2 separate regions of the Homo sapiens genome follow, and region 2 is linked to region 1. Evidence: fine-mapped QTL for protein levels in blood plasma. A gene starts in region 1. The other region holds a variant in brackets. All regions are shown on one strand. Distances are from middle to middle. Region 1 holds the start of SLITRK3 (SLIT and NTRK like family member 3). Region 2 overlaps LOC105374189 (a long non-coding RNA gene).

Region 1 (12,458 bases):
TTGCATCATACTTGAATTTTTAGGAATCACTCTGCCTTCTGTAAAGAACGGAAAGAAATTAAGGAAAGTGTCAGGGAGGCAACCATGCAGACCCCAAAAGAGACAGAAAAAAGATCTAATATCCAATTATGTTTCCCATGAAGTTTGGCTGTACTAGTTTCAGTTCTTGATTTCTATGAGATGAAGACCGTAAATCTTTTAAATAAACAAACAAACAAAATCCCACCAACAACCCTTTTCTTAAACTAGTTGGATGGATCTCAATTCCTTGTAAAGTGAACACTATACTGTCCACATGGTAGAAAGAAGCCAGTCCAGCTTACTGAGTAACAGGTGTTGCGTTTTGGTTGATTCATCCTATCAAGCTGAGTTGTATATGAAAGGTCCCTGCATGAATTAGTACTTGCTCAAAGGTTTAAGGAATGTCGAAACTGTTCAGCACTTGAATATTCTGGATTCCTGTTTATTTTGGCATTACAGTTAAAAGGTAGTAGAGTTTTTAAAACATGTTACCTTTTAGTAAATGCTAGAGAACACTTGCACATGGGGAGTTAATGTCAGCCTATTGTATCATTCAACAGAGTTATTTTTCCAGGGCATTGGTTTAAACCCACAGAAAAAGGCCAGTTTCTAAAGATTATCTGATCTTTTGTGACACAAGTGTTCCAAAAGTTTCTAACTTAGTAAATATTATCATTCAATATCAATACAGTGTATTTAAGACATATAATTCATTTTTAATATTTTATTGATAGCTATTCTGTTTGTTTTATACTACAGAATCTTTGAAACTACTCTACATTTTAGAAATAAAATAACTCAAACAAATAATTTATAAGAAGTCCATTAATTTCCAACGTTGTATCCTTCTAACACACACGCATACAGAAACACACATGCCTATGTATCACTTGTATATGTGTAGGCATATTTTGGCTATTTTTCATGGCCCTTCAAATGAAATATTACAAAATAAACCATAATATATTTTAAGGTGAAAGTGGGAGGTATCAGCAGTTGCTTTTTCACTTTCTTAACCACATCAAACATTTCATCACTACCCTTTGAATAAAAATATCCAACAGAAACAAAAAGTAAGAAAATTACTTTTAGGTCAGATTCTCCTTTGAAATTATTAAGGGCACAACATGAAATACCTACTTAAATATACAAGTGTTAAATATTTATCTTCTATTTATGTTTTTGGCAAATCTTTTTAGAAGGTACTTTAAGATTTTTCGGGAGGGGGAGGTAAATTTGTAGCATCATGGGTTCTACATTATTTGATAGCTTTACCATCATTAAAAAACTAGTGAATGATACCTTCACCATGACACATATGTTTATTATTTTTTTCTTGTTAATATTATTCAAAATATGTGCAAAATAATAACATTTCTAATAAACATTTTCCTACTTATCAATTTTTTTAAAACCATGCCAACTGAAGTGCCAAATTCAGACCACTCATCTGTGAAAGTATTTTGTCAAACGATGAAGAAAAAATGACATGCATATGGAATAATATTTATCTTTAGATGCCCAAATATGAAAAAATCAATTTCAGTACTAAAAAGGCAGAGTTACAGATATGGAAATCACTAAACATTTGTTGTTTAGCAACATAGAAATGTGAAGGGAGACTTAGATAGAATATAGTAGCTAAAAGCAGCTATAGATGCCTAAGCCTCAGCAGCAATATAAGGGAAGGAGCCAAATTCAAAGAAACTTCAGTTTTTGTTTTTTGGGTTTTTTTTTTTAATTGAACTAAGCTACTTTGTGAATTACTGACATTAAGAAATAAATTCGGTGTTTCACTACACTCTTGTTATATACTTAAGATGCAAGACTGTACATAAGATTTCCATTATTTGTGAATTCCAGCACGTGATCATATTGAAGACTTTTATCTATTCCCATACTTAGTGCTGAAAGCATTTTTTATCAGGTTCTTTATATTGAAATCAGTCTGATTTCAAAATATTCACTTTATATTCATGTTCTCAAATAGCTTTCAAAAAGTCAAAAACCAGGAGAAATTTGGTTTTACATGTAAACATGTACATATATGGTTTAGGCTGTCTAATTTGTGTAGCTGATACCAGTACTGTTCCTCTATGATGCAGTTGGTTTAAAGTCAGTAGATTAAAAGGACACATACAGAACTTCAAATGTGCTCCCAAAGGGATATCCATGAAGACTAATTAAAATATTGTGGATGTTTCAGAAGTAACTCTCAAGCACTACAATGCTTTCTAACATTTTGTCACTTCATTGCTTACAACAAATTCTGTAGTTTCATGGCTTCAGTTGTTTTTTCAAGTTAAATCACTCCTTCTCTAGCTCAAACTCATATCTTGAAAACTAGTTCTGCATTTCTACCTGGCAGGTGAGTTTCTTTGCATAAATATATACTTAAATAACTAGGAAGTTCATTACCTTAGACTTTTAAACAAGTCATCTAGGGGTAAAAAAAAAAAAAAAAACAATTGATGGAAAGTAGAAGTTTTAATTTGCTTAACTGTTTTTTCAATCAGTTGGATTTGTCCAAAAATAAAATGGCCTGCTCTGAAATGCACTAAGCTCCATTACCTATGTAACAAACCTGCACACCCTGCACATGTACCCTGGAACTAAAAATAAAAGTTTATTTAAAAAAGTATATACATAATCTTGATAACAACTTGCCAGGGGACAGTGAAGTAGATTCTAATATCACGTAATTGGTCAGATTAGATTACCTTCCAAGTCCCTCTTAGTCTTGAGATTTTATGATTCTATAAAATTATTATTTCCTTCTCTCATAATATCATATTTAAAAATATGTTTCTACCACTAAAGCTTATCTGATTTGCCTTTTTCCATTACATATAACACCTACATTTATTTCCTGATACATTATTCAATAATCAATTTACTTCAACTTACATTTGATTTATTTCTCTTCATCTTAGTCTTTTAAAACTTTTTCCCCTCTCAGTAATTTTAATCTTAACATCTACAATTTATTAATTCAAAATAATTTTGAAAAATATCTTTAAAAGTAGACAAATAACTTTGTGCTTAATCCAGCCTATAAATAAACATTTGTTCATATTGAATAGTTTAAATCTGATTGTCTCAAAATAGCTCACATAACCTTTAAGATTAAAACACTTGTTTACTTCAAAAAGAAGCTGAAGGTTCATTTGGAAGATGCCTATAAAGTGCTTTAAAATGTTTTAGTGAAACAAGATATAAAAGATCAATGTTTAATTGAATATTTTATAACTTCTTCATACTTATAGCTTGTTAAATCTATGCTGATTCACTAAGACTTATAAGATGCTATTAAAAAAACAAAATTATCAATTGGTGTGGAACTTTTTCTACGATATAAAATGTTTCAAAAGTGTTTCTCCTATGGAGATACAGAAAGATCTACAGAAATAAACATACAACAAAACTAAAAATATTAATTCATGTTTTATCACATTTTTATTTGCTTAACTTTTATAGCCTATGTTCCCATTTATAAAATTGTGTGTAACTATATTTTCAATTGTTTCAACAGTGGTATATCAAAAGTTAAGCAAATGACAATGCACTTAGGTTTTGATGGTTATCAGACATGCAATTTGTTGACCTAAACAGCATTTGAAATGAACAAAGAGAAAAAAAAATGTTTTTTTTCACAAATTTTTTACAATGCTTCACAAATGTTTTTACAATGCTTAAAAACAGACAAACACAATACGTAAATGGCTACATGCTGTACATAATCACAGATTACCACAGCTACATTTCAAGTTTGGAACTTTCTTGAGTGGCTACTTCATTATACAACAAACAGTTCTCTAACCCTAGTTTAATTAGTAGTAAATCTTTTAAAAGATGTATTTATTTTATTTAAACCATCAGAATGAGCAAAATATATGCTAGACCAAAAAATAAAGTCTATCTTAGTTATTTCAATATCATTGTTCCTCTCTGAAAAATGACAGAATCATTAAAACTATTTGAAATATTGTAATGTTTATAATTTAAAAACCAATCAGCAATGTAGACATAATTAATATTTGTTGAACTAAAAATTACATCCTATATATTACTTTTATGTTTTCCTTTTATCCATTGTGCATCATCAATAAAGAACATCTTTTTTTAAATGAGAGTTCTCCTTTTTCACAATGTAAATGATGTTTGGTTAAAATAAAACTAGGGACATGTAAATGTCTGTATGCAAAGCACTAAAAAGTCACAACATAAAATCAAATATCCATCATAATCACTTACTCTACAATATTTTTATCTGGCCTGTAATATTTGTATGGGTAGTACTCATGTTTAACACTAACAACCTATTCTAGCTATTCAATCTTCTGCAGCTCCCCAGTACCATCAGGCCACACTAACATCTGCTCAGAGTAAACAAATTAATATATTCAGAACTCTCTCATCAAAATGACCTTGAAAATAGTTCCAAAAAGTTAAAGAGATTCAGTAACTTTAGGAGTGATGTTGCCCAATGTCTTTCAGGGTTACTTTAATATCCTCCAGCCCTGAGGCTCAAAGGGCATGTGTGTGATTTCACACTTGCCCACATAAAATATGGTGTATCCAGGAGTGAGTCTCCTCAAATTGGGCAACCACCTGAAAAGGCCAAAAATATCTCTGTGACACATCAAACTACTGATGCAGTTTGGTTTTTCCTAAATCTGACTGATTCATTATGGGGATGTACTCCTTTGGCAACCCTGCCTAGATATACCACTTTGAAGCCCAATTTGGCGACCCAGTGAGTGAAACACCTATGACAAATTTTCTTTGTATATCTATGTCTTCCTGTATGTAAAATTCACATGGAAGAATTTATTATCCTAGAAAATACTGGAAAGAGGTTTGGAATTCATGCCAGTGAGTCTGAAATGCTATATTTAAAAAGAATCCATTTTAATACATGGTGCTTTTTATTACTTTCTGGGTCCCTGTAGATATTTTACTAATCTTAATAATCTTGAAGAATGCTGAGTATTTTAAAGAACAAATGAAAACATTGTAAGTATGATATATACACACACGTATACACGTATATATATATAATCTAAATTCATTTTATGCAGAACCAACACAGTTGCCATACTAAATTTAGAGTGTGTGTATATGTATATATCCCAAAAAATTCCACAGGCCCCTGGCTGTCTCTGTGACCAACTCCATCCTTTCCTATCTTTTAATGTAGGTAATACGGACACTAACTTGTGGTATTATATGTCAATAATATGAACTAACGATGGTATAAATTATAGTATATACAAAATTCACTAAATAAAGATGTAAAACATATATCCAGGCCTGTCTATCGAAGGATTTTATGCATAAATTAAAAGAGAGTACTGTTTCTTTGCAAAGGGTGAGTTAGAGTTCTTTGAATGCTTTTGAAAATAGGTTCAAGATCATTCTACCTACAATTATAATAGCTAAATAACTTTGCCTTCCTTGGACAATGTATTGCATTCTCTTCAGGAAGAAATGGCAAGAGATACAGAGATGATTCCCCAGGCTACCTTCTATTCACTTTGGGAGTTAGTGGAAGACTGCCCTCTTTCCAACACAGTCTCTGATGAAAGGGATCTATTAAAAAGAATTGCGTTGGTTTACACTGCAGATTGAATGGAGCATTAAACGAATGACTGCATTAGTATGACTGCAGTGGGGGTAATGGTCGCCTCTGTAATGTTGTAATAATACTTTCACATACGTGTTATTACACGTATTAATTGTTCCAGTGTCCGTATCTAATTTATCGCGAAATGGTATCCAGCATCTCTCAGGCAAATGCCCCCCTCCCAACTCCCTGTGCCCTACAGTTTTATGCCCCCCGCCCCCGGCAAATGTAAACAGATGAGGAAATATGTGTACTTTCAAATCGTCACCCATGTATCATGAAGGTGGGGGATTACTGCAAATCACTTGGAAACCGCTCCCCGGAGGCGTTTAGCGATACCGCCCACCAATACAGCTCAGATGTTCTTAATTTGATCACCCTCCACCTTTTGGGCTGTAATTTTCCAAACAGGCATCTCTCTCATTTGCAAATAAAAGTTACAAATCAATCCACGGGTACAGAATGCTGACTTCCCGACACTCAATTTCACAGGGTGTCTCTTGAAGAGCTGCCAGGTTGTGACCGATAATGGGGGAGAGGGAAAGGCGGACAGCGAAAGCGAGAGAGAGAGAGCGAGAGCGAGAGCGAGAGAGAGAGCGAGAGAGAGAGAGACAGAGAGAGGAGAGAGAGAGAGAGAGAGAGAGAGAGAGACAGAGAGAGAGAGAGAGAGAGAGATCACTTGCTTCCTTGCTTCCTAAGCCGGGATTTTGCCTGCGATGCGCGGCGAGAGGACTGCGGCGGCTGATTTACACAGTTGGCGCGGAGGAGGGGCCGGGGGTGCGGGGGGGACGCGCTGGCGGAGCTCCGGCGATGGGCTGATCTGGGGGCTCCCGAGCGCCGCTCCCTTGGTGCGCGATTTGGGGGCGGCTGATGGATTTGCATTCAGGTTCCAGCCCTGCGTTTCCTATATTGACTCCTTATACACGACCTGGCGCTCCAGTTTAGGAGGAGACGTTGGTAAGTAACGTGTAATCCGATTTTAGTTATTTCCTAGGCCATTAAAGTGGCACTTTTAAAGCAGGTCAGTCTTAAAAGATGCCGCCGCCGCCGCCGCCGCGAGCGTCTCCTTGGCCTGAAACGTTCAGCAGTCCCCTCCCCCTCCCACCCCCCTCCCCCGCACCTTCTCCCGCTCGAGAAGTGAGGGTGCTTGAATGGTGAGCGGTCAGAGGACTCACTCTCTGCCAACGGTATCGCTTCACCTTCGTGCTTTGCCTGAGATCTCCCAAATCCAAGTGGAATTTGGTGTGCACAGCCATACTGTGTATTTGTATCTTCTCTCCCCCTCTCCTTCTTTCCCCCCACCTTCGCCGTCTGACCAATGCTGGGATCTGAGATCTAGTCGCCCCCTTCCTGCCTCCTTTCCGCCTCTCCCCACCCTTTTCTTCTCTCATCTACACGCCACCAACCCCCACTCCCACCCACCTAAAGGGCAAAGAGCAAAGACACCCTGGAAAAGCAAGGGCTAATTCCATCTTCTCGGATGGAAGGAGGCCTCGGGCAGGGATTGCGCTGTGAGTGACAACCTTTGAGGAAGAGAGAAAGAGAGAAATCCAGAGACTGAGCTCAGGCTCTCGGGAACAACGAAGCTCTCCACTGATCCAGAGCACCGAGATTTTAAATCAAAGGAACCTAGTCCTGGGACACTCACTCTGCCTGCCTGCCTACCAACCATCGAGGGCATAGGGAGCTGTGGTCGTGAGCTCCCTGTCGCTGGCATCGCCGCGCTAGGTGCGCGCCCCGCTCTCCCATTGGTATGCAGCGACCATTTCCCTGCAAGTCTCAAAGGTGGAAACATTTAAACGGATTACAAGCGTGATTCGGTAGCCTTTCGGAAAGTTGGTGGCCAGAAGAGGAGAAGCTACAAGGCTACAGTATGATGGATACAATTCAGCTTCGCAGAGAGTTTGCCCCTCCTGCTGGGTAGCCCCTCGCAGCAAACCTCGGAGATCCTGAGCGCTCTGCACCATAGGTACTCGCCGCCATCCTTTCCTACTTCGCCTAATTGAAACCAGTATTTCTCGTATGTAGGATGTGCATTGTAGAGCACATCGAGTTTGGCCGCGGTGTATTCTGTACGCTCACAGGTGCTAGGGGTTTGTTGCAGTTTTGAATTGGATCAGTTAGGTGTAAGGACGTTGGTGGAAGGAGGGGTACCGGAGACTAACATACCCTCGGACCTCTTTTCTGGGTGAAGACATCGTAAGTAACTCCAACAAATAGGCCAGGTGGCGGAGCGAAGGACCCCTCCCCCAGTGGAATGCTCGCTGGTGTTGTAAGAGGTAGAAGGAAAAAGGCTTGAGCTTTTAATAATTTTCCGTTTCTAAACAGACCATTGTGCGTTTCGCCTGACGACAGCAGATTAGAAAAGGCTCTATAGACGGCTCAAAGCTCTTCAGAAAATGAATGATGCAGCGTTTTAATTATTTGTTCTAGGGAAGATAGTTTTGCTTCCATATTGGAATACTTAATCTTAGATCTGAAAAAATTAGTGAGCTGTAAGATCCAGCAGTGGGGAGGAGGAAGTGGGAAGGGGGCACAGCAGGGAGAAAGGGCTTCTTGTCCTCCCTCTGGACAAACAAATGGCTCTGGGCGCTCCCAGCAGGACACGGAAAAAACTGGGGCCCCATGGCTCAATATTCCCTAACTTTTGGAGCCCTCCCTGTCCTTTAGACGCGCTATCCTGAGCTAAAGAAAAGGAAAAAGGTGAGATAGCCTTTAGGACACAGCCCAGGTCCAGAACGTAAGGGGTTTTAGTTCAAGAAATAACAGAGACTTCATTGCCGAGACAACATTTACCGTCATCTGGAAGCTCAGGGCAGCCTCCGGGTTACCCATCGATTCCATCACATCATGGGTTCCGATAACACCCGATAAATAGTCACCGCCTCTGCACATTGGGTACCCAAAGTGCTGGGCGGGGGATGGGGGGGAGGGTGCGGGTGCCGGCAGCTGGGGAGGGAGAGGGAATTGCTCTGATTCTGAGCTTAGGCTATCGGTATTGGTTTACTTCTTGGCTAAGACCTATGGGAGCAATAGGGTGAGTCTGGAATATTAAGGGTAGAATGTTAGAAAATTCTGCCCTCCTGCTTACTTAGTGTATGGTGGCATGTTTCTAAAATTAGCTACTGTCTGCCAGTGGACTCCTGTGCGGTCATTTTAAATGCAAAATATCATGGAAATTGCCTTTGACTGACTTTTAAGGAACACATTGTTAGGTGATTTACCTGTTTTAGAGCAGTAAGAAATTGACATGTAAGCTGTGCTTTGCTTTAAAATTTGCTTTTGTAAAGGGTCCATTAAGGGAAAACCATCTCTACCTACTAACTTTGAGTCCTTGGGCAATTGAGGTTCAGTTTAGTTCTTTAGCAACCAAAAAGTCCCTGCCTTCTCCCCTCCCGGCGAGGAGTTGGTGACAGGATTGGTGTGTGCTGGTGGGGGCAGATGGGGAGCATCCACAGCACACGGGTCCTGTTGATTAGACTCCTTTGCTGCACACTTGGCTCTCCCCAGTTTCCCCACCAAGCTGCATTCCTTCCCAGCAGGCAGGACTGTAGTGCTGTCAGCTGAGCCTTAAAAAAATTCCTCTGAAAGCGTTCCTGAACTGTCATCTGGTAGTCCCTCTACAATACAATATCTTCCTTCAATCACCTCCACCCCCACTCCCACTACTCCCTAGGATTCACTCCCCGAAAATTTCACGGAGAAATATTTGAGTTTAAAAAATAAGAAAGAGAAAGAACGGACAAAAGCATCCAAATCCTTAAATCCACCCCAATCCCGCGAGGTCTTTCCCGGTGGCGCAATGTGAAATGTACCATTGTTACCCAAGTGGTCTGTATCTCCTTCCAGAGAATTGGCTTGTCTCTGTTTTTAAAAAGTGGAAGAAAAGAAATGCTGTTGAATCCAGGGGCTATCGAAGGCTTTGACCTGCAGCACAACAAAAGAATTCCTGGTGCAACGGGATCGAAGCAAAATGCAGGAGAAACTCGGTCCAAGTCTTTCAGGCTGTCTGAGCTCTTATTCGGGACACCCAGGCAGAATCAGACAGATTCAGCTTTTCTGCTTTGGGGACCTGGATTTCCCCCCATCCCCGTCATTGCAGGGAATGGCTGTCCTGTGAAAATGATACTTACGAAGGATAGTCTCACTTTTCAAACCACCTGCACTAGAGAGATGAGCTTTGGAAACTAAAGGAGCAAATCATTCAGGGGATGGTTTCCTTGAGAGTTTAAAAAAAAAGAAAGAAAGAAAGAAAGAAAGAAAGAAAGAAAATGCCTATCCCTGCCCCCCTCCCCCATCTCCACCTTCCTCACCAAAGAAATGTTTCCCATAGGTTGGTCTCCTCCCCCTTCTCTCTGGTTTCTTATTTTGCCAATTTGTGTTCTCTACCCCTCTACTTCTTTTCCCTACACACACACACACACACACACACACACACACACTCACTCAACTGTATAGTCAGGGGTTCCTAGTGCTCGCTCCCGAACCCATGCTAAGCGCGTTCCCTTTGGAGCTCATTTTCATGACGTGGAATGCTGGGTTCAGGGTTATAGCACATATATATTTTTAAAGCCGGAGCGAGAGAAGTCTGAGATTCTGCACTGTGATTGAGCCTTCCTTCCTCCCTGCCTCCCTCCTGTGCTTCCTCCCAGTGCCCAGTGATGTGCTGTGGGTACCCAAAGAGAGCAGCCACCGCGGCGGCAGCGGCAGGGGCAGCAGAGCTGGAAGCCTGCTGCAGCCCCTTCTCCTCCCTCCTCTACTGAGTGTGCCAAGCGGCAGTTCTGCATCCTAAAGAAGCCCATTGAAGAGCCCATTGCATTCCCAGCACGTCTCAAGCTTGCTGCTTTTTTTTTTTTTCTCTTAGTCCCCCCGCCCAACCCCCTTTATCCCCTTTTGCTTCAGCTTCAGCAAAGCAAAGGGAGGGGGAGGGAAAGAGAGAGAATCCTTAAACTCAAGCTTTTTTTTTTTCTTTTTCTTTTCACGGTTCCATGCTAATAAATAAATAAATAAATTACAAAAAAACCCGAAACCCAAAAAAACTCTGGCAAAATAGGTAAGTCCAACACATCTGTAGCCTTTTTTGCCTAAACCATAGGGACCTGAAAAACAAGAAAAATATTTAAGATGGTGAAGAAAGAACTTAAGTAGATTTTAATATTTCATAAGGGAGATGGAAGACTAATTGATACTGCAATGTAGCCTTTTCTCTCTCCCTCTTTTTCACTGAATTGTTTTTAATTTTTGAGTATTGCATGTCTGAGGCAGATTTCTCTTTGCTTTCTCACGGTATCTCCTTTCTTTACAGCTGTGAACATTATAGGCGAGTGTAATGTGAAGATTTATTTCTTTCACTTTTCCTATAAATTATATCATTGTGGTTTAAGAAGAAGGTTGATGAAATATATCTTTCTGTGTGCTCTCTATGAGGAAAATATATGCTAGAAACTTTGGTTTATTTTTGTTGATTAAAATCAGCTATTAAATTTTGATTGATATTTTAGTGACTCAGGAAGGACAGTGTAATAAAACTGCATTATTATCATTTATGTAAACATTTTCATATACTGATGTTATTAGGCAAGGAAAACGATGCATAGAGAAAGACTGTTATCAGAATAGTGCACTGCATTTGTTTCTTCTGATTGGAAAAGAATGATATCTTTTTTGAAATTTATTTCGTGTGATAGATCATTTATCAGCAGGTAAGAATAGAGGTTTCCACTCTCTCTTGACTTTAACTACCCACCTCCCCTCTAACCAGCCACCTGCTCTTCCAGCTTTTTACAGGGTTCCTCAGTTGATCTTGAAGGCGCAGATACACATTCCAAACTAAGTTTTGCAAATGTTTTAATTCAGACACTTTCAGACTCAGCATCCTCTAGCTGTCCCTATCTTTAGCTCTGACAATTGCACGGGCATGTTTTTTAGAAGGGCTAATCACTCCTACATGTTTTAAATAGTCAAATGATACAAATATATACAAATTATTTATTAAATTAAAGAAGATGACAATAATGTATTATTGGGCAAGAAGATGTGGACATATAGTGTACATACTGACTATACACTGTAATAAAGCATGTTATGATCATTTCATAAAAATAAATCTTAAGTTTTCCTGAGATGCTGATCATTTTACACATCTCAACATCTGATATTGAGCAATAGGCTCATACTTTATCACACTAATCAATATAATAATTTTGGAGTATATCATGTCTTTTTAATCATCAAAACCTATAACTCAAAGAACATATTTTTCCCATCAGAGTTCCAATCAGATTTATTATGAGTATCTTTGATGTCAACATGAGTTTTAACAGGCAAACAGGTGTGATGGCCACATTATTGCCATTATTACTGAATCTGCCTATGCCTAAAAGGAAGTACGATATACCAGTTCTGTTGTTTGTTATACAGAGGCAATGCAGGCTGCTTTTGTTCATGCAATATGCCGTTTACCAAGTATGGCTTGGTTCAGGAAAATGTCACTGCATGGTTCAATATTTCAGAGTCTCCTAAGTTTAAAATATAGGACACACTCTAAACATTAAGTATGTTGCTAGCTCATCTTGAGTGTCACTTCAACAATTGCTGAAGTTTTTATATAGCTCTTAAAATGCCCCACATGTAGGAGTCAATTAAAATAGTACATATGACTAAAAGCTAAAAATCTGCATTTTTATTTCTGTTGCAGTTTTGTAATCAACCACGAACGATGAAACCTTCCATAGCTGAGATGCTTCACAGAGGAAGGATGTTGTGGATAATTCTTCTAAGCACAATTGCTCTAGGATGGACTACCCCGATT
Region 2 (12,458 bases), 840 kb after region 1:
CCTACCTCAACCTCTCAAAGTGCTGGGATTACAGGCTTTAGCCACTGCGCCCAACCCAGACGGGGGTTTAATGTATCATTATATATTTGTTACCTAGTAAAATAACCAATATATAGCAGACATTAATCCAGATCAATATTAATAAGAAAACTGTCCCCTTAGTTACCAGGGTGACTCCCCATAAGCCATATTAATATTTTATAACCCTCTCATCACTCCCAAACTTGCTTATGGTTCAGAGATTTAGGGTTAGATTCCTTCCTAAAGCTAGACCTGTCCAAATTATTCTTTCAGACAAATTTTAATTAGAATTTCTGATTGAGTTTGTGTTTTACGTGGGAACTAGGGATGTTTTAAAGAAGAAAAACCTGATGTGTCATGAGACAGTCATATTCCTCTATGAATTTAGGAAGGCAGAAAAAGCAAGTCTGTAGAGACAGAAGCAGAAAGTAGATGACGAGAAAGAAATTTCTAGTTCCTAATTCCAGTATCTTCCTGAGGTTTGGCTATACTGGAAACTGTGGAGTGTGAGAGGAACATAGGCATTTTTATATTCAGTTCTTCCTTTGGCACAACTGCTTAAGAAGGTTCACACTGCTTGCAAAAAAGAGATGAATTCTAACTAAGAAACTATTGTTCAACTGAAGAATGAAGATTGTGACTTAGGTACAAAAATCTAATGGTAAAATGTAGTCATAGGTTGGAGGGAAGAAAAACAGGACAAGTCTAATTAAAATCAGGTAGGAAACCAGTGAATTTCTATTATGAAATTATTGTATGTTCTTGTAGCTCCACCTTTCCATTGGAGTCTGTGATTGTACTTAATTTGAGTATGGCAAGTGCCAGTATTTCCTTAAACTACTTTTAATAGTAAATAATACAACATAATCTTATGTCAAACAAAACAACTAAGACTTGATTTGATTGCCTCTATTTCTTGTAAGCTATTCAACTTTGGGAAATCATTCAAGTAGTCTAGATTCTATGTTCCCAAAATCAAATATAGGGCATTTGCTTAAAATAATGTGAGTGGTTTAGAAGACACAGGGTTAATACTGATTAGATAGAATAAAGCCAAATCTAAGTACAGTTGACTCTTGAACAACACAGGCCTGAATTGTGCAGGTACGCTTTTAGTGGACTGTTTTCAAGCAAACATGCATGGAAAATATAGTATTTCCAGGATGCAAAACCCACAAATACAGAGGCCAACTTTTCCTATAACCAGTTCCACAAGGCCAACTGCCCTTGAGTATGTGTGGATTTTGTTACATGAGGATGTCCTGGAGCCAATCCTCATTGTATACCGAGGGATGACTGTAATAATGTGATCATTTTGGAAAATCACTTATCAAGTTTTTTTTATTACTTGCTTTTTTCAGGAAGTTTTTGGTTTACAGAAAAATTGAATAAAAAAGTGTCCATATTATCTTTCCTTCCTGCACGTTTCTCTGTAATTTATAGCTTGCTTTGTTACATTTGTTATAAGTTGAACATTTGTTATAAGATGAACAAATAGTGATACATTACTATTTAGTAAAATTCGAAGTTTACATTAGAGTTCACTCTTTTGGTTGTACAGTTCTGTACAACAGAACTGCAGGGGTGCAGCCTAGGATCTGTTGCTTACAGCACAAAAAGTCAATCACTGAGATAACAAGTATTACCAGGGAAGAAGGATTTATTCCTGTGCTATAGCTGAGGAGAACAAGGTATCAGTCTCAAATCTGTCTACCCAACAGATCAAAACTGTGGAGTGTATATAGTGAGGGAAATTGAGAAAAATTAGGGAGGGCTAAGGAGTAATTATCATAGATGAGAGGTCTGGCATCTCGTTGTCTGGATGTAGTGGTCTGAGTTTTAGTTCCTTGCCTGAGGGTTCCAGAGGAAGGGACTCAGATGAGACAAAGATAAATTTCAAATTTAAAGACAGAGGGTCAATTTTGATGTTTATTATAAAAACTTGTAAATATCAGCTCTATGAGAAAATTGGGCTGGTTTCAATTCTATCGTTTTTGAAACTTAAAATAGTAACTTCTGACTAAATATATTCTTAATACTTTAGTTTTAATATCCACTGAATATTTCAATTCCCTTTCTCTTCTAGTATAGGCTGAACTGTTCATATTTGAAAATGTTCGTTATGACTTTTAGAAATATCTTGAGATGTGTGCATGTCCATGTGTAATTATTTTGGCAAAGAAAATTTTCATATCTACATTTGCTTTATCTCACATAATTTCTACAAATATTATTTTTCTATGTTTATTTTTTAACCAATAGAGATATTTTGAAAGACAATATTTTAAAATTCCAATGAGTAAAAAAACTAACATCTTGAGCTCTTGAAAAGCAATGATGTTAGGTAGCAAATTCTCACTGGACTGTCCAATACCTTCTGTCTTTTCAGCCCAGATAAGATAACTATTCAGAACAAAAGCAAAATAGCAAGAAAATCTCAGGTATATTTGAATTCAGCTATTTTCTGTTATCCTGGATTTTCTAATGAACCCTGACATTACACTTTAAAATTCTAAGTATTGTTATTGAATCTTTTGTGAGCTATTTAATCTGTTTAAAAGCAGAGACAAATGAGGCCATCAATATTTAAATGATTTCTATTCCTCATGGTGATTTCAAAATGAATCTCAGCTTACATTTGAAGATCTGAAAAAAGAAACAGTTGCCATCACAGACTCAGTGTATCAACAGTGAAGAATACGTTTTTGCATTTGAGATTTATATGATTATTTGAGATGAAGAACTTACGGTAGTGACAAAGAAAGGGAAAAGCTCAGATTTTGAAGGGTGGTAATTGTTTTGGGTAATTTCAGTTAACCCAGGAGGAAAAAGTAACATGGAAATTAGTTTATGGTAATCAAGAAAAAGCAGTTTCAAGATATGCTTTAATTTTCAGTGCCAAGATGTATCTAAAAATTTTATGCTATGGAAGTTGGAACTATCCCTCCCCCTACACCTCCTAATATCTGACATTGGTATACTTTTTGTTTTTCAATTATAAATTATTAACAATACACTTTTATTTCAGTCTTTCAAGAAAACTTTATGTGAGATGATGCTATTAGATTCCACATACTTCCAACTTTTCTCCTAATACCTTCACTCAATATCTGTGGTCTGCCTTCTATCAATATCTACACTATTGCTTTTATTATTGCCAAGTCATTAATATTCATGCTCTCTCTGACTGCCAAGTCTTCTGCACTTTTTCCCTAGGTTGATCCTAGATGTTGAAAAAAAAATTAATGGCATTTATCTTGCTGTGATTATGCAATTATTTTCACTTCAAGTAGAGTTCTGGGATTTTATTTTTTTCTCTATAGGTAATGTGTCTGGATCTCTAGGGCACTTGAAGGAGATTTTTTGTTTATGTAGCATCAAGCCTAAACTGATTCTTTTTCTCTCACTTTTTTATATGTTCTTAGTTTCTTGTTTGTTTTTTATAATCAGGCCACATTTTAATTAGCTTTATATTTGAATTGTTAATTTTTTAAAAAAATATTTGTTCCTCTAAATTTTTCATTTTTTATTAAATATTAAGGTTTTATTATTCTTTCAAGTGTTTCATTTAAAAAATCAGTTGTCTCTCCTGATAACCCTATCTTCCCATCCCTGAAAACCTCATGTTCTCTGGTATAGCACTGCCATTTTCTAGATCTTATACACTTCTACTCTTTCATTTACTTCCCCATTTTGCTGAAGATAATCTCAACTAAATTTCTAAGTGAAGGGTACAAAAGAGAAAAATATTTTAAGGATGTTTATGTTTGATAATGATTTCATGTTATATTTTCTCGATACTTTACTGAGTATATCCTGCTCGGTTACAAACATTACCCCAAAACTTTAAGAAGACTTTGCCTCCTTGCCTGCTTTTTAATCTCCAAGAGCACTATACAGAGTTTTCTGCTCACTTCATGGCACAAAATTCTTACTTTAAGGGTGTCTTACTATTGTGAGTATATTTATTCAAGTTGTTTTTTAAAGTTCTCTTTTCTTTGCCAAATTATTATGTCTTTTTCGAATATTGCATTTTTTCTGATATTGTTATAAACTGGTATTTTTTTTTAACATATTACTGATCTGTTCATATGTTTTTGGTCATTGTCTTTTCATAGTACAGGCATAAGAACAAAAGAGCTGAGAGCTGTCCTGTGGTATATTGTAAGTAGGCCTTCTCTGCTAGGTATCTCAGTGTGACAACTGTTACTGTAAGAAGTTTGTATTTTTGTCAGGACAAATTTCACATTAGAAAGAGCTGTCAGACAACGGATTGTCAGGATGAGGTTTCTCCAAAACCTCAATGCAAAGTTTTTATTTGGTGGAACTAATGCGTACACTAAAAGAATTAACTTTCCCCAGAATAATTCTTTCCTGCCCCTAAAAATAATTCTTTCTTTAGCCAAAGGGATATCCTGTATTTTAATTAAGGATTATTAATAGGCTGCCTATATTTTCAGTTGAATCTCTCCATTTTCAATAAAGATTCCCTCAACCCACATTAAATTTTATATTTATGTAATATGTAATTATCAGTAAACAACCTTCATCCTCTTTGTTTTTGAAAAATTAACTGCGATTTTATCTGCTGGAAATGCTTTATTCTCTTGAATATCTTTGTGTTTTTGGGCTTTTCCTTTGGTTCTTTTAGTTTTATATTTTAGACAGGGTTTCAGTGAGATATGGAGTAGGTCTGGATATACACTAGCTTGAAATTATTGATTTCAAAATGGCACTATTTAAAAAAATACCTATTGTGAGATTGATATATTTTGGATTATTTAACATTCCACAAAAAGTTTATAGAAAATTCCGTTATTGATTATTTATTCTTGTTTTCTGTTTTTGTTATATTTAAGTACTCTTCCAGAAATCCATATTTTAATTTCTACATCTAAATTATTCTGTAGACTATGAGCTCTTTAAGAACAGAAATCTGGTATTACATTAGTTTTAATTCTTTTCTCAGCTATACACTATACTCAGGCGCTGCATTAAATGTTGATATAATTAATTAAATTCCAGTATTCAAAAGTTTATTGATAGTTTTATAACTGTTTTAGGTGGTTCAATAATAAATAGATTACATATTTTGCTCTAGGCATTTAAGTAAGTGGAATATAACCATGAACACGTATGTTTATAGATTATAGTTGCAAGTATTATATATGTAATATAAATTTTATAGTTTTAACTGTATCTACTCCAATTTGTACTTATTTTTTTCAGGTTCTAGTTCTATTTCCAATTTTGTTTTACTGTAATATGCAAGGGATAATGTGCAGTTTTTCTTGGTTTCATCTAGAAGTCAGGCGAATCATGCAATATTTTTATTTCAACAGCAATCCCATCTTATGACTTATAATCTTCCAATCCATTTATATCTATAACATACGAGAAAGGGACAAGATTTTATGTCAACATTTTACTCAGACTATAAGATATAGTTAACTAACCCTTTGTGGAAGTATGAGAAGGAAAATCACCTTAAATCTGACATAAATATTATTTGACCTCATGCTTGTTGAGTTCCAGAGACCCTAAACTATTGTAAATATTAGTTTCTTCTTTTAACTTCACTTTTAAAATAGGTGATATGTATTTTCATAATACAGTATCTTTTGTAGATTTTAATAACTGTATACTAACTTATCACAGCCATGGTATTTGAATATATATTTAGCTTGATAGTAAAATGTTAAACCTTTGTGAAATGTAATGTAATATACAAAGAGGTGTCTTCCTGGTTCACAGCTCTAAGATAGAGTTCAGAAGCCATTCTAAGAATGACTGTATTAACTTGTCTTAAATCTTTGAACAAGGCCAAAGTGCCATGATCGCGTCACCCTGGAAAACAGGTGAATTTCTTCAGTGCTGCAACTCTTATACAGTGACAACCAATGAACTATGAACATGTACTAAGCCTGTTGCCTACACCAAAGATATTTCCTTCAAAACAACTGGTATGATCACTCTGAGTCCTTTTAAAAATCTCTACTCTCATCCCTCTCTTCAGAACATAATTTGGTCTTTAGTGGAGTTTGTTTCCTGAAATGAAATTCATAAAACCCCAATAAACACCTTGTCTTATGG[C/T]TTTGCAGTTGATTGACTAATCAACTGACTAATTGACTGACTCCTTCAAATCAACTAGGTTTAATTTCCAATATACATATGATGAGGCTTTTATTTTCTTGTTTCAAAAATAAAAAATAATTTTGTTATTAGAACAGATGTTTGAAGCAATCCCACAGATGTCTGGATCTTCTAGGAGAGGTTTGTTAAAGGTCTCTAATTCAGATTGTGTGAGATACTGTGGGAATGGATTTTGTGTTTCACTTTAAACCTCCTGCAGCTCATCCTGCATGAAATGTAAAATCACATCTCAGAAAGCAGATTGAGTATTTATGGTAATTTTTCTCTATAAAATGAAAAGGTGACTGAAAATTAACTGAAGAGTAAATGTATAGAATGACACTTAAGCTTAAAAACAATATAATACTGCCAAATTACATTTATTTAATTATATCATTGAAATTAGGTATGAGTAAATAATTATATAAATTCTTTAAAAATAATTTAATGAGCATACTCTTTCTTTGAAAAAATAAGAAAAGTACTCTGTAGTATTTTTATTTTTGAGGTCTTCTTACAAGATTATGCATTTTGGTAAGTGCCCATTATCTATTATCAAGTCACCATTCAAACCTAAGATGACACATGCAGATAGATTTGGTTTTATTATTAAAAGAAAACATTTGTGGTAAGATGCTGAGGTTATATTTCTTAAATTCTTAATTGTGACATCATGTATTTATATGTTTTGAAAATGCTATCTGAAGGAGGACAAAACAATCATTTCTGAGGCTATTAAGGATGTGGATTCAAGGTCAGACAAAGCTTTCAATACTTAAGAATAAACCAAAGCTGGAGACTCAGGCTTTTAAGAGTCATTAAGTATTTAACAGTTATTAGCCAAAAGCCTCTGGCAATTTTGTTTGCTACAAAGAACTTTGCTTTAGTGGCTCCATACAAAAACAGCTTGGGAGTTTTGATTGATTTATTAGGGTGACTTTGGTTTATTTAGAGAACACAATGTCTGTATCTAGGTTATTGTTTGAGTTTATTTGATGATACTATTATAGCTTACCAGTGGAAAATAAACAAATAAATACAGTAAAAGGAAATGATATAGGCTAGAAACTGTATCATCATATTCTTTTTGTATGTGGCTCATTACTACACTATAAATTTGATGTTAAAGTAAATTAAAAGTATATTTTAAATCTGCCTCTGAAACAAAAGTTGGTCTGTGAGGTTAACACCAAATATGAGTGAGCATTGGAATAACCATACACCTTTTAGGAATCACAAAGTACACAACAGTATATGAAAGTATCTCCAGTAAAGTGAATGCTTGCTCAATTGAAGGGCTCCACTTACTTGGAAATCTTTATCACAACAGAAAATGTCCACAGAAATGAACAATTTACTCTTGTTCAAAATGTCACATTCAGGAAAAGGTTTACTAACCCTTGGGAGAACACTAAAGACTTTTGAGAATTTTTCATGTTAACCAGTCATCTTCTGGGAATTATGACCTAAATATTGATATGACTAAAACTCATGTGTCAATGCAAATCTAGTTGTATCTTGGATTACATACATATAACACTATGCTTAAATCATAGTCTAACAATTGACTTCAGATTAAAGTGTCATTCTTACAATATCACCTATGTGGTATATTTTTGCATTTAAATTTCTGCCTGTTAAGCTTGACAGATGTAACTTTATTATATATTATGTTAATATATAATAAACATATTAATATATAATATGTTAATATATAATAATATGTTTATATACAATATATAATATAGTTTTATATAAAATTATATATTTTAATTAAAGTATATCTTAAAATTTTATTCTTACTCTAATAAAAGAAAGAGTTTCTTCATACTAGGTATGAAAACAAAATGAATATTTGTCATTGGTTCTTTTTACCCTTTTATTTTAATTGAACCACACTATTTAAAAATATTTCTTAGCACTGAGAATTTCAATTTTACTTTGAACTGAATTATTTTAATAAATAAGAAAATATTCAATTTTAAAAAATAGTGACATATGCTATTTCTTCACTATGAATTATGAGCACAAAACAATATAAACTAAGTAGTTCAAACTCATATTTATAAAAATATTGGTTAAAAGGATGACTATTACAGGCTAATTAATATAAATATTGTTAATGATTAAACTATTTTCTTCCTTAGAGAAAATGGTGCCACAGTCTGAACAGTTTTCTTTTCTTTTTTAATACTTAACATCATCTTTGGTAATATGAGCCTACAACAGTAAATCTGAACTGTCATAAAAATAGAGCTTTATTGATGGAAGTTCATTACGTACTCTACATCCACATTAAAGGAAGACAGATAGGAGGCATTATCAAACGTAGAGAGACACTTTTTTCCCTCATTGCTGACATTTATACTCTACAAATGATAAAGTAAAAGTGCCCTGTGACCTTTGGTCCCTCTCTTTTCAAAATTAAAAAGAATTGCATAGGACATCACAGGACCTACTGGGCTAGAGTGAGGTCCATTTCTCTCCTTCAGGGGATGGCTACCTGAAAGTGTGGCATACAGTAGGAATTTAACAAATGATTCAAGAAGTTAAGAGTAGGAAAATATGTTCAGGAATTTAAAACACAATGCATCTGGAATTGAACTAATTATACATATCCCAAATTCCACTGTCTTTTGAGTCATAACTCAAATGCCCTGGAATCTCTAGTTGACAGAATTTTTTTATTTCTTCCAACACATATAAGCTCTCTGTGGACCTGCCAAAAAAAATCTGACCTGAACAGTAGTTAAGTGGAAACAAACAAAACAAAAAACAAAAAACCAATAAACCTCAAAAACTACTGCAATAAAAGAAAAGAGACATCAGTATAGATCTAGCTCAATTCTGAATACCACATGAAAAAGTGATTCATAGCCCAGAAACACAGTTGGAGGGGGTCAAATAGTGGATGGAAAATTACTGAGAGAAACTTCAAGGGTAAAAGGTGGTTCCTGGCTAAGTTGACTTAACAGGATTTTTGCTGAAGGTAGGCAAGGATGATGAGATATCATCTTGTTGATGATGAGGTATGAGAAATTTGATTAGACATGGGGAGTGATCAGGTATTGAGGGTGGGATCCTGGCTAAACCAACTAAATTGTTTTTTTGCTAAAACAGAGGGATGCAAAGATAAACATGGAAGTCCATAGGTCAAGACCTACATGATCAGAGGATACAAAGAAAACTGACTGAAGTTTGGTCAAAGAGCTGAACTTTGTCTTACCCAAGGCACTTACTATTAATAATGCTCTTATAGTACTGATCTCAATGACTTCATTATATGACTCTTTTCCTCATCATGGTAAAAGTTTACTGTAGATCAGTGGCTCTAAATAGGGGGTGATTTTGCTTCCCATTGGATATTTGGCTGTACCTGAAGACATTTTTTGTTGTCACAACTGGGTGAATGCTACTGATATCTAGAGTAGAGACAACAATGTCACTAAACATCCTGCAATGCAAAGGACAATCCCTCACAAGAAAGAATTTCTATTTTAAAAGGTCAGTAGTGGTCAAATGGAAAAACTTTGCAGCAGATAAAGAATTGTGTCCCACTGCCATGTTCCTAAACTTTTGTCTGTGTGTGTGCTTCATATGAAGAATACTTTCCAAATTTTATAATCAGCGCATGAAGAGGCTAGGCGGTCTGTTAGAGATAGCTCATGACTTTTAAATACTGTAATGCATTTTATATAATAAAACTGTTTTTTTAACCCATTTGATTTCTTTTATTATAAAAATATTGTAATAAAATATTCTTTATAAAACATATTAGTTATGGTACATGGCATAGGCTACAATAGAAAGTCCAAATGTAGAGGCTTTAACAAGGAAGACATTTATTTCTTTCTCATTAAAAAGTTCAGAAACAAGTGATTCAGGAAATAGGATGGCTTCACATCATCAATATAAGTTTTCCTAAATCTAAGGTAGTGTCTCTAGAGCTCTTCACTTCCAGTCAGCTGTGAGGGAAAATAGGTAGTGAGTATATATGCATTTCCAATGGAAAACATCTTCTAATGCCTATTGGTCAGAATCTAGGACCAATTGATTACACTAAGGCTGGGAAATGTTGTCTCTTGATGGAAGACTCTGTAACACTGAAGTACAGAAATTCTACAGTACTTATAAAGAACGGAGAATGGTATAGGTCAGAACTAGCAATCTCTGATGAGTGAAGTAAGGTAAAGTTTGAAAAATATGAAAAAACAAAATAATTACTCAGTTTTCAGAGTACTGACTTCCAGTTTTCTAATGCTATTTTAACAAAATATAATAGTATTATAAGCAGACATTGTTTAATATTTTATTATGAATATCCTTTTATGTAAGTGAATGTTCTTAAAAAATAAAGAGCTTCTACTACTACAAAGTGTTTCATCATAAAGTTAACATATCATTTCTTAACCATTAGCTTTTATAGACATTTTAATAGTTTCTTACATTTTACTGTGGCAAAAATTACTAATGAACATCTTACACAGATATGGGTCCACCTCTGTAATTATTTTCTTAAGGGTGATTCCTAAAAAATGGATTTGTGGATTAAATGTTATGAGTAAATGTTTTGTAAAAATCTAAGACACATTGGTTAATTGTGTTTCACAGTGGTTATAGCAATTTATACCCCATCAACATGTGAGGCTATATATTTGACTCAATCATTGCCAATAGTTACATTACTGCAAAAGTATAATCATTGATATTGTTTTTTCTTCTGTAAAAAGAAAATTAAAACTCGAGATTCCATTTGACTATGCCAAAATGAAAATAAGGCTTAAAGCTGAGTTTTGCAATAAACTGCCTTTCCTTCTGTTCCTAGGAAGATACCTATAGATAAGGGATTAAATGTCTTCACAGGTAGCTACTCTATGTTCATCATCTTATGTAAAATGCTGATTTACTGAGTACAAGATGGATATATAATTGACTATTCCCCTACCTGTTCCTTTTCTCTTACAGTATGTGAATTCAGTAATGTGACCACACCCTCCCTTTGTCCCCTTCTGCATGCTCCTTTCCTTTAAATATTGAAGCCCTCAAAATTATCTTTGGATAAAGGCACAGATCTGTCTCCAAGGCACATCCTTACCCATGGCAAAATAAACTAAATTGATTGATACCTGTCTCAGACACTTTCTGGTTTATAAATTGGTGACCACAAAGGGACTCTGAGTGGAGGTAGCCCTGACCTTTGACAAATCTTGTATCAGTGCTTGACACCACTTTGAGTTATCTTGATTGCTCAAACCAATACAACAATTTTCTGAGGCCTGGGAGCTCCTGCCTCCAGAGAATCCATGATCTCCCCAAGTTCATTTGACATCTAAGTTTTATTTTCCTGTTCAATTCCTTTTCTGGAGTTTTGGTCACTTCCAACAAGGAAGGTGAGGTTTCCTGCTTCTGCAATGTTGGAGAGAGAGCAGGCAACTCCTTGTAGTTTCAGCTCACTTCCAACAGGGAAGGCAAGTTTGAGTTTTTTCCTGCTTCTAAGATGGTGCAGAGCAGTCTTCAGCCTGGGCCCCATTCCTAGGTAAGTAGCTGAATTGGGGTTTATTCTTGGAAATTATCTTTAATGATTAAAAGTTAAGATTAACAACTAGCTGGTCTTAATTTCTACTTACAATTAGAGCACACAGTAATTGTATAAATTGTGCAATTGTTTGTTTTGCTCAACTTTTTTTGTTTGTTTCTGTTTTGCTGGTTGTTTTTGTTGTTTCTGTCTTTTGTTCATTGAGTTTGATCAATTCTACCTGACTTGATCAAATCTGAAGGAAAGTTCCAAATTATGGGGAACAAGGCCTCTCAATTGGCTAAATTCTTGCAGTGAGAGAGAGAGAGAGAGAGAGAGAGAGACATAAATTTTGATTACCTGAGGGACTTTATTTAAATAACAAGGCCACCTTCTGCTAGCCAAGCCAAACTGACAGAGTAATGGCAGTTGCCCATCCTATAATTCAGTAGCTAAGATTCTGCCCTTTTTTCACCATGGCAGCCTGGGTTTGGATCCTAAGCCAAATCCTTTCTGCTTGATATTTGCATTACTTTTGAAACAGCAGCAGTTTGTACCAGCTACAAAATATTAATGAGATTTAAAAGAATTTTTTAAGAGCTCAATAGTTAAATGTCAGCTTAATTAAAAAATACATGTTTATGTACATACTGTCAGGCCTCTGAGCCCAAGCTAAGCCTTCATATCTCCTGTGACTTGCACGTGCACATCCAGATGGCCGGTTCCTGCCTTAACTGATGACATTCCACCACAAAAGAAGTGAAAATGGCCTGTTCCTGTCTTAACTGAT

What was found. PIP is the posterior inclusion probability: the model's chance that the variant is causal. Sun 2018 read protein levels with aptamers (SomaScan).
Region 2: its variant is fine-mapped to the plasma level of the SLITRK3 protein (Sun 2018, PIP 0.95).

What each region holds. Positions count from the first base shown.
Region 1 is chr3:165,190,738-165,203,195 of GRCh38, reverse strand. It overlaps SLITRK3 (SLIT and NTRK like family member 3), which reads left to right and starts at 6,812. Exons shown (of 2, transcript NM_001318810.2): 1 at 6,812-7,616; 2 at 12,345-12,458. The coding sequence starts at 12,366.
Region 2 is chr3:164,347,711-164,360,168 of GRCh38, reverse strand. The region is part of intron 1 of LOC105374189 (a long non-coding RNA gene); the gene reads right to left. Among named protein-coding and RNA genes, the nearest start is that of MIR1263, 180 kb to the right of the region's middle. The variant C/T (reference allele first, on the strand shown) is at 6,115.